Linked DNA regions of Homo sapiens: region 2 is reported to be linked to region 1. Evidence: microRNA targets listed by miRTarBase, many of them from high-throughput screens and not tested one by one. Region 1 holds a microRNA gene; the other region holds the end of a gene's coding sequence.

Evidence for each region. The annotated mature microRNA hsa-miR-4758-3p reads UGCCCCACCUGCUGACCACCCUC and lies in region 1 at 1,648-1,670, shown strand. An mRNA with a match to its seed (bases 2 to 7 or 8) in the 3' UTR can be bound and repressed. Matches are read on the target gene's strand: a 7mer-m8 pairs with bases 2 to 8, a 7mer-A1 pairs with bases 2 to 7 and ends in A, and an 8mer does both.
Region 2: miRTarBase lists TNFAIP8L1 as a target of hsa-miR-4758-3p. Seed matches in the 3' UTR shown: 7mer-A1 at 1,107-1,113.

What each region holds. Positions count from the first base shown.
Region 1 is chr20:62,330,160-62,334,159 of GRCh38, reverse strand. It overlaps MIR4758 (microRNA 4758), which reads left to right and starts at 1,603; the gene lies at 1,603-1,673. It overlaps LAMA5 (laminin subunit alpha 5), which reads left to right. Exons shown (of 80, transcript NM_005560.6): 23 at 121-259; 24 at 454-596; 25 at 679-785; 26 at 917-1,070; 27 at 1,443-1,603; 28 at 1,680-1,788; 29 at 3,031-3,128; 30 at 3,216-3,417; 31 at 3,546-3,672.
Region 2 is chr19:4,651,915-4,656,424 of GRCh38, forward strand. It overlaps TNFAIP8L1 (TNF alpha induced protein 8 like 1), which reads left to right. Exons shown (of 2, transcript NM_152362.3): 2 at 1-3,654. The coding sequence ends at 516. Among named protein-coding and RNA genes, the nearest start is that of TNFAIP8L1, 15 kb to the left of the region's middle. RefSeq lists a silencer at 2,818-2,867.

The DNA of each region.
Region 1 (4,000 bases):
CTCAGCCTAGAAGTGGAGCCAGGCGTGGCTGGCAGGGAGGGGTGGGCAGGCCCCTTGAAGGCCCAGGCCTCAGGCTGGCAGTGGTCAGGGAGAGTGACCCGACGCTCCATGCCCACCCAGCCCAGGATCGTGGCCAGGCTGAACCTGACCTCCCCTGACCTTTTCTGGCTCGTCTTCCGATACGTCAACCGGGGGGCCATGAGTGTGAGCGGGCGGGTCTCTGTGCGAGAGGAGGGCAGGTCGGCCACCTGCGCCAACTGTGAGTGGGGTCCCTGGGCCACAGCCCCTGCCCCACCAGCCCAGCCCACCCCACCCCACCCCACTCCCAAGCCCCGCCACCTTCCTCTGGCTCATGTGGGTGGTAGGACCAGCCTATCCCCAACCCTGTAGGGGGTGCAGCCTGGGGTGGCCCCAAGGGCTGGGCTCAGGAGTCTCACCCCTGCCCCCGCCCAGGCACAGCACAGAGTCAGCCCGTGGCCTTCCCACCCAGCACGGAGCCTGCCTTCATCACCGTGCCCCAGAGGGGCTTCGGAGAGCCCTTTGTGCTGAACCCTGGCACCTGGGCCCTGCGTGTGGAGGCCGAAGGGGTGCTCCTGGTGAGGCAGGGGCCAGAGTGAGGGCTGGGGGCCGGGTCAGGGGGTGGGGCCCACCACTCTCAGCACCACCTCCACCCTGCAGGACTACGTGGTTCTGCTGCCTAGCGCATACTACGAGGCGGCGCTCCTGCAGCTGCGGGTGACTGAGGCCTGCACATACCGTCCCTCTGCCCAGCAGTCTGGCGACAAGTGAGGGCCATGCGTGCGGTGGGACCGGGGTGGGGGCTTCCTGGACCCCCACTGTGCCTGGCTTCCCCCACTCAGGCTGTCTCTGGGGACCTGGGTGGACCTGGGGCTGACCACGGCCTGTGTCCCCCCAGCTGCCTCCTCTACACACACCTCCCCCTGGATGGCTTCCCCTCGGCCGCCGGGCTGGAGGCCCTGTGTCGCCAGGACAACAGCCTGCCCCGGCCCTGCCCCACGGAGCAGCTCAGCCCGTCGCACCCGCCACTGATCACCTGCACGGGCAGTGATGTGCGTGTCCTGGGACCCCACGGAGCAATGGGTGTTGCAGGACCTTGGCCTGGGGGCTGGGGGTCCTGTGGCGGTGGCAGGTTATAGGAGCAGGGCGCTGCCTCAGGCAATGGAGCCCAGCACCCAGGCAGGGCGCCCCTGCCTCCTGCCTCCTGCCTCCTGCATGTGTGACCTCAGTGCCTGTCTGTATGTAGGATTGGCTGTGGCCTCCACATACAGCTCAGCCCCCACCACTTGCCTGGAGATGTCCGGGCCAGGGTGGGACTCGGCTGAAGGGCAGGCCCTGGGGTCAGGGAGGCGCTGGAGTGGGAGGGGAGGGAGGTGGGAAGGGCGAGGGGTGGCGGGCCTCCCGTCACCCTGCCTTCCCTGCAGGTGGACGTCCAGCTTCAAGTGGCAGTGCCACAGCCAGGCCGCTATGCCCTAGTGGTGGAGTACGCCAATGAGGATGCCCGCCAGGAGGTGGGCGTGGCCGTGCACACCCCACAGCGGGCCCCCCAGCAGGGGCTGCTCTCCCTGCACCCCTGCCTGTACAGGTGAGTGGGAGCCGGTGGGGCTGGAGTAAGGGCACGCCCGGGGCTGCCCCACCTGCTGACCACCCTCCCCCCACAGCACCCTGTGCCGGGGCACTGCCCGGGATACCCAGGACCACCTGGCTGTCTTCCACCTGGACTCGGAGGCCAGCGTGAGGCTCACAGCCGAACAGGCACGCTTCTTCCTGGTAAGGACCCCTCAGGTCCCCACCCCAAGGGGTCAGCTTCTTTCAGAAGATTTGAAACATGCATGAGAGGGGAGAGGACAGTTGGGGTCCCAGGTCCCCAAGGCGGCCACACTCGCTCATGCCCAGCCCAGCATGTTTCTTCTGGAACCCCTCCTGCAAGCGTTTTGTGGATTCAGTCCCTTTTGACGTACCCCCGAGCTGTTCCATGTGCTCAGGAAAGCACCTGCAGTCACAGCTCCCTGGCCCCAGGGCAGCCACCTCCTGGCACAGACAGCGTTGGTTGCCTGTTCTGGAACTTTCTTTTCTTTTTTTTTTTTTTTGAAATGGAGTCTCACTCTGTCGCCCAGGCTGGAGCGCAATGGCAAGATCTTGGCTCACTGCAACCTCCACCTCCTGGGTTCAAGCGATTCTCGTGCCTCAGTCTCCCAAGTACCTGAGACTATAGGCACTCACCACCACGCCTGGCTAATTTTCGTATTTTTAGGAGAGACAGGGTTTCACCATATTGGCCAGGCTATTCTCAAACTCCTGACCTCAGGTGATCCGCCCTCTTGGGCCTCCCAAAATGCTGGGATTACAGACAGGAGCCACCATACCTGGCCTGGCACTTTCTATAAATGCCACACAACATGTTCTGTGCAGCCGCGTCTCCCACCGTTGTGTCAGCGGATAAGTTGCCGTGTTCCGAGACACCAACCTCACATGGCCGCACGGAAAGGGAGCACCCATTTGCGGCTTGTGCCTGCTGAGTGCCTGCCTGGGTCAGGTCCTGGGAGAGCTGGGCCTGGCCCGGCCTGGTGGCACCAAGCAGCACTCGAGATAAGAGTGGGGGAACAGTGACGGATGGGAGGGCGAGGGGGAGGAAGAGGGCTATGGGAGGAGCCGCATAGGCCTGTGGGCCCAGGAACTGGCCAACACGCTGGTCTGCGGTTGGGGTTTGTGCAGCTGGAGGAGGAGCAAGGGCATCTTGGAAAGAGCAGGGCTCGGTCGGACGCCTGGGTTTGCAGTTTCCTGGGTCTGAGCTGTGTGACCGGCCCCCCCATCGTACCGCCTGCACCCCCCATCGTACCGCCTACACCCCCCCATCGTACCGCCTGCACCCCCCCCATCGTACCGCCTGCACTCCCCATCGTACCGCCTGCACCCCCCCATCGTACCGCCTGCACCCCCCCATCGTACCGCCTGCACCCCCTATCCTCCCCGCACCACGGGCGTTGCAGCATCTCGTCCCTCTGCCTGCAGCACGGGGTCACTCTGGTGCCCATTGAGGAGTTCAGCCCGGAGTTCGTGGAGCCCCGGGTCAGCTGCATCAGCAGCCACGGCGCCTTTGGCCCCAACAGGTAATGGCAGGTAATGGGGCTGGGAGGGGCGCGGCCGAGGGCCCGGCGGCAGGGCCGGCTCTGACTCACCCACTGTGCTCTCACCAGTGCCGCCTGTCTGCCCTCGCGCTTCCCAAAGCCGCCCCAGCCCATCATCCTCAGGGACTGCCAGGTGATCCCGCTGCCGCCCGGCCTCCCGCTGACCCACGCGCAGGATCTCACTCCAGCCATGTCCCCAGCTGGACCCCGACCTCGGCCCCCCACCGCTGTGGACCCTGATGCAGAGCCCACCCTGCTGCGTGAGCCCCAGGTGAGGGCCATAGTCTCTAGAGGGACGGGGGTGTCAGGGCAGGACTCCGGGTCCCAACCCAGGGCAGGTTGTCCAGGGGGCAGCAGGGGCTCATAGCTCAGCCTGCTCACTAGGGCCTATCCCTGCAGGCCACCGTGGTCTTCACCACCCATGTGCCCACGCTGGGCCGCTATGCCTTCCTGCTGCACGGCTACCAGCCAGCCCACCCCACCTTCCCCGTGGAAGTCCTCATCAACGCCGGCCGCGTGTGGCAGGGTGAGTGTCTGGTGTGGGGGGTGGAGAGGCTACCACACACGATGAGGCTGGAATGCCGGCGCCACAGCGTGGCCTGTGCTACCTGCTATGAGCGACAGGCAACATGACTCTGTCCTGCCATCAGTTCTCAAACTAGCTGCCCTTGCAGCCCGCAGCCCCTACCCGCCCGCTCCCGTTCCCAGAAAAGCCTGGGTCTCGCCTCTGTCTCGTGCGTTGGGAAGCCCCGTTGTGCTCCATGGCACGTGGCGAATTGAGGGCTTGCCCCAGGATGCCGCTGGCAGCACATGTGGCCCTGTGTGTTTGTCTGGTTCCTGGCTCGGCCAAGCCT
Region 2 (4,510 bases), not on the chromosome of region 1:
AAGCTCCTGAGTAAGATGGCGTCCAAGGCAGTGGTGGCCGTGCTGGTGGATGACACCAGCAGTGAGGTGCTGGATGAGCTGTACCGCGCCACCAGGGAGTTCACGCGCAGCCGCAAGGAGGCCCAGAAGATGCTCAAGAACCTGGTCAAGGTGGCCCTGAAGCTGGGACTGCTGCTGCGTGGGGACCAGCTGGGCGGTGAGGAGCTGGCGCTGCTGCGGCGCTTCCGCCACCGGGCGCGCTGCCTGGCCATGACGGCCGTCAGCTTCCACCAGGTGGACTTCACCTTCGACCGGCGCGTGCTGGCCGCCGGGCTGCTCGAGTGCCGCGACCTGCTGCACCAGGCCGTGGGTCCCCACCTGACCGCCAAGTCCCACGGCCGCATCAACCACGTGTTCGGCCACCTAGCCGACTGCGACTTCCTGGCTGCGCTCTACGGCCCCGCCGAGCCCTACCGCTCCCACCTGCGCAGGATCTGCGAGGGCCTGGGCCGGATGCTGGACGAGGGCAGCCTCTGAACCCCGGCGCCGCCCAACCGCGCCCCTCGCGCCTTTTGGGGCTCTCCTGCTGGGCGCGGGTGGGGTTTGTGGGTTTTTTTCCACCTCTTTTCTCCCAATCGGACTCCGGCCAAACTCCCCTAGACAGATGGGTGACCTGTCTCCTTTGAGAGGATGCTGAGGCATCTGTAGCAGCTGTTTCAAACACCAATGTCACCTCTCCTCCTGGCCCCCGCCCAATGGGGAGAGGAATTTGGGGCCCTACTCTGGGGACCACCTTTCACCCGTTTGTACTTTCTGGGCCACGCCGACCCCTGGGTCGCTTGATGTAAAAGCCAAAAGCTGCTGCCTCCCACTTGGATCATGTCGCCTGGGATTTTCATCCCTCGCACAAGGACTACGGGTTCACACGGTGAACTGGGGGAAGGGAAGTGTTAGGGGGCAAGTCGCGGCACCCCCCCTTCCATAAACTCACGTCCTAACCCCCAGGACCTCAGAAGATGATCTGATTTGGAAATAGGATCATTACAGATGGAATTAGTTCAGATGATCTCATCTTGGAGTAGGGTGGGCCCCAATTCAAGGACTGGGGTCCTTAAAAAAAGGGGGCCTGGGGCAGGGCGCGGTGGCTCACGCCTGTAATCCCAGCACTTTGAGAGGCTGAGGCGGGCGGATCACGAGGTCAGGAGATCGAGACCATCCTGGCTAACACGGTGAAACCCCATCTCTACTGAAAATACAAAAAATTAGCTGGGCATGGTGGCACATGCCTGTAGTCCCAGCTACTCGGGAGGCTGAGGCAGGATAATCACTTGAACCAGGAGGAGGAGGTTGCAGTGAGCCGAGATTGTGCCACTGCACTCCAGCCTGGGTGACAGAGCAAGACTCTGTCTCAAAAAAAGAAGCGGGGGAGTGGGGGATTGAGGCCACGTGCAGTGGCTCACTACTCTAATTCCAGCACTTTGGGAGGCCGAGGCAGGAAGATTGCTTGAACTCAGAAGTTCAAGACCAGTCTGGGCAACATGGTGAGACCCTCGTCTCTACAAAAAAAAAATTATCGTGGTGGGCCGGGCGTGGTGGCTCACACCTGTAATCCCAGCACTTTGGGAGGCTGAGGCGGGCAGATCACAAGGTCAAGAGATCGAGACCATCCTGGCCAACATGGTGAAACCCCGTCTCTACTAAAAATACAAAAATTAGCCGGGCATGGTGTTGCGTGCCTGTAGTCCCAGCTACTTGGGAGGCTGAGGCAGGAGAATCGCTTGAACCTGGGAGGCGCAGGTTGCAGGGAGGCGGAGGTTGCAGTGAGCCGAGATTGCACCACTGCACTTCAGCCTGGTGACAGAGCGAGACTCGTCTCAAAAAAAAAAAAAAAAAAAAAAAAAAAAGTGACTGTGGTGGTGCACACGTATAATCCCAGCTACTTGAGAGATGACGAGGGAAGATCACTTGAGCCCAGGAGTTAAGAGGCTGCAGTGACCGATGATCATGCCACTGCACTCCAGCTTGGGTGAGAGTGGGACTCTGTCTTAGAAAGAAAAAAAAAAGTATTTGGACACAGACATGCATGCAAGGAAGGCCAATGATGCCGGCCACCACCAGGAGCTGGGAGAGGCCCAGGGCAGATCCCCTTCAGCCTTGGAGGGACCTAGCCCTGGCCACACCTTCATCTCAGACTTGCGGCCCAGAGAACTGAATGAGAATAAATGTGCGTGAAGCCCCTCAGTCCACAGGATGTGGTACTGGAAGCCCCCACTCAAGAAGGCTCCAGTGAATGCTGGCACGTTCAGCCAGGATGCCTCCGTGAAGCTGGAGACCTCTGCCCTGGGTCGGGAGGGGAAACTGCTCCAATCCAGGGACTGCCACATGGGAGGGGACGGAGCGTGCCCACCTCCCAGGGGTGAGGGGGGACCCACCTGAGATGTGTGCACATTTTATTTATTTATTGTTTTGAGACAAAGTCTCGCTGTGTCACCCAGGCTGGAGTGCAGTGGTGAAATCTCGGCTCATTGCAGCCCCTTCCTTCCAGGCTCAAGTGATCCTCCCACCTCAGCCCCGGGTAGCTGGGACTACAGGTGTGCACGAGCACACCCGGCTAATCTTTGTATTTTTTGTAGACAGAAGGTCTCACCATGTTGCCCAGGATGGTCTCGAACTCCTGGGCTCAAGCGACCTACCTACCTCGGCCTCACAAAGTGTGCACATTGTAATATCGTGATTTCATATTTGGAGAATCAGCAACCAACCAGCCAACCATGTTGCTTTTATAAGACAGAGCTGAGAAAGCAAAGCTTGGCTGTCGTCTTGGCTCTGGTACCACCCACGAGATGCGGGCGATTCTCAGCTCAGGGCGTGGAGGCGTGGTGTGGGGGAGTCTATTTGCCATTTTTGTTTGTCAGCAGGGGGCAGGGGTTCTCAAAGATTGCAAAATGCTGCTGCAGGTCAGGAAGGTTATTTTGGGTGCCTGTGGGGGAGGTGAAACAAGGTCCCATGACTGTTTTGCAGAACCTTGTCTGTGGAGGGTAGAGGTTGCGGCAGGGGCCTGTGGGCCTTACTTGGTGAGAAGGTAGGTCTAGCTGGCTCCATTCAGTATTTGAGACATTTGGAATTTGTCTGCATTTAAAACCAAGAGATCACACACACCTGTCTGGATTTGGAGTTTCTCTTGAAAACTCGCCAGTCCGGCCGTCTGAGCCTGCACTGACGCCTGGTGAAGCTGTGCAGGGGCCGCCCCTCTCCCTTTCACCACAGTCCTCTCCACTCCCTTTCGCCTCTCCCTGGCCTGCTGCACTCACTGATAGGAAATTCTGACCCCAGACTCGGAGCAGCCTTCCCGTGGTTCGGTTTTTGCTTCCGCGAAAAAGCCAAAGGCCTTGGCCAGAGAGCCAGCTGTTCCTACCTCTACCCCACGCTTCCAAGGCAACCTTCTCCACTTATCTTAGGCCGAGAGACAGCTCTTCAAGAACGTACATGGATCCTGATTTTCTCACGAAGTCCCGATGGAACCCTGTGCTGTTGAGACATCAGTGTGTAAAACTCTCTGTGTCCCTGTTGGGCTGTCCAGACAGTCTGGACTCTTGTAAATTTGAGATTTAATTAAAGGAAACAAACCAAATAGGACTGCGGAACAATTTAAATAAAAGCACACACCAGCCTGGGCGCAGTGGCTCATGTCAGTTAAACCTAGTGCTTTGGGAGGCCGAGGCAGGAGGATCACTTGAGCCAAGGAGTTCAAGACCACCCTGGGCAACATAGCGAGACCCTATCTCTAAAAATATATATATATAAGGCCAAGTGCAGTGGCTCACGCCTGTCATCCCAGCACTTTGGGAGGCTGAGGCAGGCAGATCACCTGAGGTCAGGAGTTCAAGACCAGCCTGGCCAAGATGGTGAGACCCCATCTGTACTAAAAAGTACAAAAATTAGCTGGGCATGGCGGCGGGTGCCTGTAATCCCAGCTACTTGGGAGGCTGAGGCAGGAGAATCACTTGAACCTGGGAGGCGGAGGTTGCAGTGAGATGAGATCGTGCCACTGCATTCCAGCCTGGGCAACAGAGTGAGACTTGGTCTCAGAAACAGAATAAAAAAATAAAAAATTATAGCCAGTCAGGGTGGCATGCACATGTGGTCCCAGCTATCTGGAAGGATGGCTTGGACCCAGGAGGTTGAGGCTGCGGTGAGCCGAGATCGCACCACTGCACTCCAGCCTGGGTGATGGAGCAAGATCCTGTCCAAAAAAAAAAAAAAAAAGCACACATATGCACACGTAAGGTCAGAGGGGAAGCTCCTGTGTGTCCCGAGATGCCCTGATGTATGCTGGTGCATCAGGCCACCCGGGCATCATCCTTGATGACAGCCAGGGATCCAGAAGCTGTGGGCGAATCCCAGCTGACCAGGAGAGAGTCCCCCTACCTTGGCCAGGGTACTGGTGGTAGGCACTGTTTCCCACGGCCTTTTCTGCACAGGAGGCCCTGGCAACCCTGTCGTGCTCATCTTCTGGGCCCCGTGGAGCCTC